2 separate regions of the Homo sapiens genome follow, and region 2 is linked to region 1. Evidence: fine-mapped expression QTL. A gene starts in region 1. The other region holds a variant in brackets. All regions are shown on one strand. Distances are from middle to middle. Region 1 holds the start of NUDT14 (nudix hydrolase 14). Region 2 overlaps TEX22 (testis expressed 22).

Evidence for each region. PIP is the estimated chance that this variant, and not a neighbour inherited with it, causes the effect.
Region 2: its variant is the best candidate, but not a certain one, in a credible set for the expression of NUDT14 in putamen (GTEx, PIP 0.66).

What each region holds. Positions count from the first base shown.
Region 1 is chr14:105,179,639-105,184,021 of GRCh38, reverse strand. It overlaps NUDT14 (nudix hydrolase 14), which reads left to right and starts at 2,710. Exons shown (of 5, transcript NM_177533.5): 1 at 2,710-2,893. The coding sequence starts at 2,813. RefSeq lists a silencer at 2,541-3,010.
Region 2 is chr14:105,402,575-105,406,957 of GRCh38, reverse strand. The region is part of intron 2 of TEX22 (testis expressed 22); the gene reads right to left. Among named protein-coding and RNA genes, the nearest start is that of TEX22, 6.2 kb to the right of the region's middle. The variant A/G (reference allele first, on the strand shown) is at 1,802.

The DNA.
Region 1 (4,383 bases):
ACTGAAATTCACAGAACATTAAACACTTCACAGTGCACACTGAGCGGCATTCAGTACATTCATACTGCTGTGCGGCCACCAGCACTGCCTGCTTCCAGAATGCCTTCTTCACCCCAAACGGAAAGGAAAGCCGGCACCCATTAGTCAGCATTCTTCATTCTCCCGCCCTCAGCCCCACCAGTCCGCAGCTGCTTTTCCGTCTCATGGATTTACCTGTTCTGGACATTTTCTTTTTTCTTTCTTGCTTTTTGTCTCCCTCCCTCCCTTTCTCTGCCTTGCCTTGCCTTGCTTTGCCTTTGCCTTTGCCTTTGCCTTTCTTGATGGAGTCTTACTCTGTCACCCAGGCTGGAATGCAGTGTCAAGATCTCAGCTCACCGCAACCTCTCCCTCCCGTGTGCAAGCGATTCTCGTGCCTCAGCCTCCCGAGAAGCTGGGATTACAAGCACACACCACCACGGCTGGCTTTTAGTAGAGACAGGGTTTCACCATGTTGTCCAGGCTGGTCTCGAACTCTTGACATCACGTGATCTGCCTGCCTCGGCCTCCCAAAGTGCTGGGATTACAGGCATGAGCCACCGCGCCCGGCCTGGACATTTCATATACACAAAATCGCAGAGGACACGGCCTTTGTGTCTGGCTTCTTTTGCTGAGCATAGTGTCGCTGTCGCTTGTGTGGGAATTTCTCTCCTCATGGCTGAGTTGTGCTACCTTACACGTCTACACTGCATTTTCTGGATCCATTCACCTGGCAACGGATGCTTGGGTTGTTCTTCCCTTTGGCTGCTGTGAGGAAGCATCTGTCTGAGTGTCTGTTTTCAACTCCTTTGGGTGGATACCCAGGAAGACAGTTGCTGGACCACAGGGTAATTCTATGCTTAACTTTTTGAGGAGCCGCCAGGCTGCGTCCCACAGTGGGCTCCTTGCTGATATTTTCAGGCACTCAGCTCTGCAGTCTGCACTGCCAGACACCTGGACCCGAGTGAGTCTGAGGAGCACGGTGCTTTGAGGAGCTGCTGGCTCTCCCAGGGGCTCCTTGATGGGGCTCCTGTTGCCTCTGCCTGTCCCGGGGCTGCTGCTGCTGGAAGCTGAGACTCATCCTCATTTTCCATGCAACCACGGGCAGGAAGGAGCCTGCACGCGACATGCCAGGGTGCGCGCTTACCCTGGGCCCCTCGTGCACCGGAGGAAGAGGCCTGCCTGGCTGTGGGGTAGGGTGGGGCCAGCTTCTGGGCTGGGCGCTCTGGCTTCCGGGACACCAGGCGGAATGGCTAAAGCAGGGAGACACAGGCCCCTGTAGAGCTACTGGGGCGGTGACAGCTGGACTTGGATGCTGGCTTCATGACCGTGCTCCCCAGCGTTCCCACCTGGTGATGTCCCTCCCCTGGAATCTGCCGGAGGCCCAGGACTTTCTGACCCACAGGATGCCCCAGGAATGACACCATATGACATCTGAGGCCAGGTCACACAAAGCCTGGCAGCTTGGCCTGGCCTGGTGAACGTGCTCTGGAGGGAGCCAGCTGCCACGGGAGAATCCAACTACCCCGAGACCACCATGCTGCAGGGAAGCCCACGCCAGCCACATGGGAGGCCAGCCGGCCCTAGCTGTTCCAGCCACCCAACTGAGGGCGGGGGCGAAGAGGCCATCCTGGACGGTCCACCCCGTTTGGCCTTCAGACGACTCCAGCCCCAGCTGCCACCTGATTACAACTGCAGAGAGACCCCAAGACAGGGCTGCCTGGCTGAGCTGGGCAACCCACAGGCCAGGCGATAACGGGGTGCTTTAAGGCACTAAGCTTTGGAGGAGTGTTTTGTTACACGGCAATAGTTAACAGGGAACTGGGAGTCGATTTCAAGCTCACATGGCCAGTCCACCCTGAGCATGTCCCCTGGGCCATAGTTCAGAAAGCAGGTGCAGGTCAGGGTTCAGGGCCAGTGTGGGCCTCAATATTGTTTCCTGCCCCCGTGGAGGCCGTGGTGGCATTTGGAGGGGGTCCTTGGAATCCATGCCCAAGGAAGCACTGAAGCTGCCTGGGACCCTCCCACACCCAGGAAGGGCCGTCATCAAGGTAGGACTTGCAGGGGGAGGGAAGGGCAGCTGGCTTTTGAGTGGAGGAGGGACAGCTCCAGAGACAGCGTGGCAGCTCCCAGCCACCCTCGCCACCAGGAACCTCGAGGGGAGGCCCCCTCGGCCCAAGCTCTGGCCCCTCCAGCTCCCTACTCTCCTCTCCCCTAGCTTCCTTCCAGGGCCCTCTCTCTTTGGTCTCCTGTGATTTTCTTCCTGGGCCCACAGTCCCTCCCTCCCTGGGGGGCTGCCCCGCCCCCGGCCCCGCCCGCGGACCCCTGGAGTAACTTAATCTCGGGGTTGTGGTCCATCCCCAGAGTGGGGAGGCATCCGCTCGGCCCATCGCACCCCAAAGCTGCAGGCCCTTAGCTCCAACCACCGCCAGGCCCTCCCTCCCCCAGCCAAGAGGTCCCGAGTCCCACCCAAGCACTGTACCCCGGCCCGGCTGGCCCCGCCCGGCGGCCGGGGTCGACCCGGCCAGTCCTTCCCCCGGGCGACGCCCACGTGCCTGCGCGGCTTCCCTGGCACCGCGGCGACCAGCGCCCCGAGGCGCGCGGCACCCGACAGGTGGCACCTGCGAGCCCCGCCCACCTCGGCCGCCCCGCCCACCTCGGCCGCCCCGCCCCGCGCGCCCACGGAGCATGCTCAGAGCCGCGGTCACGCGCCCGCCCGAAGGCTCCTGTCGGGACAGGGCGCCGCCCCGTGTCGGCCCCCGCAGAGCTCGCGGCCCCCGCCTGTCCGGGCGCCGCCATGGAGCGCATCGAGGGGGCGTCCGTGGGCCGCTGCGCCGCCTCACCCTACCTGCGGCCGCTCACGCTGCATTACCGCCAGGTGAGCCCGCGCCCCCGCGTCCCCCGCGCCCCCGCCGGCGGCCCGGCCCACGACCCGCGCCCCGCCCACCATCTTCCGCGCTGCCGGCCCCGCCCCGGAGCCCCGCCCCCGCCTCCCGCCGATCTCCCGGGCGGCCGCTTGTCCGCCCGCCGGATCGCGGGTTCCCAGACCCAGTGAGCCCCCAGGCCGGGGAGGGGCCGCGGGAGGGACATCTGAGGGGGCACCACTCATCCTTTCAAGGAAGCATTGCTGGGCCCCATCCTTCCCGCCCGCCCAATCCGACCCTCTTGGCAGTGGAACTCCTTGGTTGCCCTGGGGATCAGGGAAGGCTTCCTGGAAGTGGTGGCTTTCATGCTACCACTTGAAGGAGGAGATAGCTGGGCCGAGGAGGAGGGAGCAAGGAGCGCAGAGGCCGGGCGCAGGGAGGTAGGAGAAGGAGCTGAGTGAGAACTTGAGAGAGCCTCTCAAAGCAGGCTTCCTCCTTGGGGTTTTTTCCAGGGAGGGCACCTCCTTGGAGTCTCCATCTGCCTAAGCTCAGCCTTCCCCACCTCCTAGGGTGTCACCTTCTCCCATGCCAGGCCACGGCACAAGAGGCTGTATTGCCTCACTTAGCACCAGGCACATGGTAGGTTCACAAGGAATATTTTGTTTTGTTTTGTTTTTGAGACAGGGTCTTGCTGTCGCCCAGGCTGGAGTGCAGTGGCATGGTCACAGCTCACTGCAGCCTCAACCTCCTGGGCTCAAGCGATCCTCCTGCCTCAGCCCCCGCCCCAGTAGCTGGGACCACAGGTGCACACCACCACACCTGGCTAATGTTTAAATTTTTTTGTAGAGACGACGTCTCACTGTTGCCCAGGCTGGTCTTGAACTTCTGGCCTCAACCGATCCTCCTGCCTTGGCTTCCCAAAGCATGGGGATTACAGGCATGAGGCATATGTGTTGGGTGAAGGAGCTGCTGCCATCCTTTTCCCACATCCAGTGGATCACTGAGTCCCGGGCCGTCTTCCTCCAAGCCCAGCCCTGTCCAGTTAGGGCCCCACCTTTTGCTTGCATGCCCACCTGCCCCCAGCAGATCTCCCCTCTGCCAGAGCTCCTTCATGCCATTAAGGCAAAGACCACCTTCCTGGTCACAGTCAGTCCAGCCCCCCAGCCTATCAGGTCAGGTGGTCCAGGTCGCAGTGCCTCTCTGCCTGCCTGCCTCCCTCCCTCAGGGGGCATCCTGTCCCCCCCATCACATCCAGGACTCTGCCCCTCGCCATCCTGGAGAAGCCCTCTTGGCCCCCAGCCTGAGAGAGGCCCTGTGCCCCTCACTTTCCCTGTTGCGGGAGTCCTGTTGGCGCTGGAGGACAGGGGATCCCTCTCCCCAAGGCGAAGCTAAGCTGGTGGTGCTGGCAGGGGGCAGCTGGGATCAGTCGGGGTACAGCAGGTGGAGACATGGGGTCACTGCCCTTTTCCCTGACGTTGGCCATATGGGATGCCTGCTTGTGGCT
Region 2 (4,383 bases), 220 kb before region 1:
CTTTAGAAAAAGGTCCCCAAACCATGACCGTGCAAATTATTTGAAAAGATACAAAAAGAACAGCAAAAGAAATGGTCTGAAAGCTTAAAGATGAAATTAGGAAAGATTAATGACTAAATTAAAATTTAAAAATGGTGAATAATGATCACAATGGGCTCTTTGAAAAACCAATAAAACAGACTTACTCTTTCCTTACATCCTCACCAACTCCACATAGATCCACCTTTATAATTTTTGCCAACTTTTTCACTGTTTCATTTAGTTCCTTTTTTTTTTTTTTAGGAACTGCAAGTACGTAGACTTAATTCATTTTTTTCCTCCTTTTTTTTAAAGATACAGGGTCTTGTTCTGCCTCCCGAGCAGCTGGGAGCCTACAGTGGCACGCCACCCGGGCTAATTTTTATTTTTTGCAGAGATAGGGTTTCACTATGCTGTCCAGACTGGTCTTGAACTCCTGGCCTTAAGTGATCCTCCTGCCTTGGCCTCCTGAAGTGCTGGGATTTACAGCAGTGAACCACTGTGCCTGGCCCACTTTTCTATCCAGTTTTAAAAATAGTTTCCTCATTGCTTTCAAGCATCTCTTCATAGATTCTGGTTGGTAAACATTTGAATGTTATAAATATTACAAGTATTTTCTTCCAGGCTGTCGTTTAACATTTTTGTGTCTTTGATTGCACAGAAATGTTTAAAAACTCTGTAGTTAGATTTGTCAGGCTTTTCCTTCAAGGATTTTGTGTTTGGCCTACGAAAGGCACTTATCACTTCCAGATCCCAAATATTCTCTCATATACTCTCTCAGTGCTCACATGGTTTGGGTTTAATGTTTTTTGTGTGTGCATTTTTTTGAGAGACGGACCCGCACTCTACCGTCTTCTAACTATACAGCCAATCACCCCAATACCACTTATTGAAAGGTCTGTTTCTCACTACTCTGAAATGCCATGCTCAACATAAATTAAATCCCCACATTTATGCACAGGTTGGTTTCCGGGTTACTTGTCCAGGCAGTGGTGTCTTTGCCACCTTCTGCCACAGGGCCACACAGTTTTAGTTGTTGGAGCTGGTGCGGACAAGCCAGGCCTTGCTCTTATTTTCCAAAATTGTTGTATGGTTCCTTTTCCAAGTAAACATTTTAAAACATCTTTATTTTTTCAAATTATACTTTAATGAATATTGGCAATATCTTGTTTACTTCTGCATGCTTTTGAACTCTGAACAAAGCCACATGGCATGAATAATTTTGTCACCTTTTTGCCTCTTTCACTCAGGAACAGGTCTATGAGACTCACGCTCACGGCTGCACGCAACAGGCGTCCACACAACCACATTCCCAAATCCGAGGTAAGTTTGCTGTTTGACAGAAAAATGCAATGTGAACTGATGCACGGCCGTTTGGTGTCCATCTTCACCCTGCGGTTGGAATATTCCTGTGCTTACCGCTGCACACGTTCACAACCCTACCGCTGAATTTGGTTGTTTTCAACCCACTCTGACAATGTCTGTCTTTTAACTGGAACACTTAGTCCGTTTTCATTGACTGAATTAAATGACGTACCGGCGATTCTATCTGCCATCGTATCTCCTTCTGTTCTTCTGCTGTAATATGTGAGGGCAGGCAAACTCATCTAACTCCAAAGATGACAAGCAACTCGATCTTTTTTTTTTTTTGAGTCAAGGTCTGGCTCTGTTGCCCAGGCTGGAGTGTGGTGGTGCAATCTCAGCTCACTGCAGTTTCCGCCTCACAGACACAAGTGATCCTCCTGCCTCAGCCTCCACGTAGCTGGCACTACAGGTACATGCC[A/G]CCATGCCTGGCTAACTTTTTGTGATTTTTTTATAGAGATGGGGTTTTGCCATGTTGCCAGGCTGAGCTCAAGCAATCCTCCCACCTAGGCCTCCCAAAGTGCTGGGATTACAGGTGTGAGCCACCATGGCCCACCCCCCTCCTCTTCTCAGAGGAACTGAGAACACTTTAGTTCCACTCACAGGCACCATCTTGACATTTATGCCATTGCAGGTACATATATTGATTGTATCCTTGCTTTTCTGTGCATGAGTGACATCCAGTGACTGTCAGTTTCAGTTTACTCAGACACTTCCTACTTCCTCTCATGCTTTATCCATTTCAGACCTTTCATCACTTTCATGATGCTTTGAGATCATTTCTTCAGAACTGAGGTGAGAGTGTGCTGGGGGCAAATTCTCTTTTTTATCATTTAAAAACTTTACTTAGCCCTTTGTATAATCCATTTTTGCTGGGCCTGCTATTCCAGGCTGAGCATGGCTTCCCCTGAGCACAGGCATGCTACTGCTCTACTGTGACGAGCTCCCGTGGCTGCTTTGAAGGTTCTGTCTTCCCACTCAAATTGCTTCTGAGGTTTTTGTCGCTGGCATTCTACAATTTCACTATTATGCTTCTCAGTACATAATTTCTTAAAGCGTATAGACTAAATGACTGCCTGTGAGAGCTGTCCTCCAAGATGGCATCCAATGATCCTCACCTCCTGGTATCCATGCCCCTGTGTCGTCCCCTCTCACACTAAATAGGATGACCAGTGTATCCAAAACGGATACTGTAGAAAGAGAGGAGTGTGACTTCCAAGGTTAAGTCATGGAAGTCATTGCAGCTTTCAGCTCACTCTCTCCACTCACTCACTCTGGGGGAAGCCAGCCCCCATACTGAGGATACTGAAGCTGTCCTATGGGGAGATCCACGTGGTAAGGAGCTGAGCCTCCTGCCAGCCCCTATCATGGACTCGCCAGTCATGTGAGTGAGCTGCCGTGGAAGCAGTCTCCAGCCTTCCTCAAGCTTTGAGATGACTGAAGTGTTGACTGCTATCTCAACTATAAGCTCCTGAGAGATCTCAAACCAAAGCCACCAGCTAAGCAGCTCCCAAATTTCTGACCTACGGAAACTAAGATAAAAATACTTACTGTTTTAAGTTGCTAAGCTCTGGGGAAATTTGTCATGCAGCAATGGATAACCAATACATTGCCAAAGGCTGGGTATGGTGGCTCATGCCTGTGATCCCAGCTCTTAGGAAGGCCAGGAGTTAGAGACCAGCCTAGGTAACATAGTGAGACCCTGTCTGTAATTTTTTTTAAAAAGTAAACTAGTAATACATTTCCAGAATCACTATGTACATTTAAAATGAAATTTTCAAGATTCATGAAGTCTGTTTTTTTAAAAAACACTGAATTGTTTTTGGGAAGCTTGGCATGTTTAAAACGTTAAATCTGGCTGGGCGCAATGGCTCATGCCTATAATCCTAACACTTTGGGACCCCAAAGCTGGAGGATCACATGAGCCCAGTTCAAGACCACACCAGGCAACACAGTAAGACCCCATCTCTGCAAAAATTTTTTTAAAATTAGCTAGGCATGGTGGCATGCCACTGTGGTCCCAGCTACTTGGGAGGCTGAGGTGGGAGGATAGCTGGAGTCCAGGAGGTCCAGGCTGTAGTGAGCTGTGATTAGAGAAGCAGGAGTCTAGGAGAGCCAGGATAACATCATTTTATGTTCAACTCCACCTTGAGACTAATAGAGCACATTCCTTACAGGTCACAACCACGGACCTAAGATGTTTACAGCTAAGGAAGCAGCTTGGTAATGCCTACAAGGACAAACTCATAGAAAAGGAAGTTCAGATGTCCCAACACCCACAATAATATATGCTTTCAAGATAATTATAGTGATGCTTTAATGTACTTGCACACTAAAATGTAAAATAGTTTCCTTTTAATCAATAGAATAATAAATTGTTATGCTGTCAGCCCACCCACACGTAGGCACAGCTTGGTCTTTACATAGATAAGACCTCGATATAAGAAAAACTAAAAACAAAGTAGGTCTGTTCCTCTGCTTGCTTGTTGAGGATGCCCTGCTCTGCAGTGGAGCGGCTTTCAATAAATGATCTCTTCTCACTGCACTCTGCAGCTCGCCTCAAACTCCTTCCTGCATGAGATCCAAAAACCCTCTCTTGGGGTCCAGATGGAGATCCCTTTTCCAGTAACACTGTGATCATACCACTGTACTCCAGCCTGGTGACAGAGCAAGACCCTGTCTCAAAAACACACATATGAAATCTGCCCATCCAATATGATAACCATCTCCATCAGGAGCTCTACATGCTATTCAGTAACATTGTAAAGTGTTCTTCATGAAGGAATTGAACAACAGGTTTCTCTTTTTTTTTTTTTTTTTTTGAGACGGAGTCTCGCTCTGTCGCCCAGGCTGGAGTGCAGTAGCGCAATCTCGTCTCACTGCAAGCTCCGCCTCCCGGGTTCACGCCATTCTCCTGCCTCAGCCTCCCGAGTAGCTGGGACTACAGGCGCCCGCCACCACGCCCGGCTAATTTTTTTGTATTTTTTAGTAGAGACGGGGTTT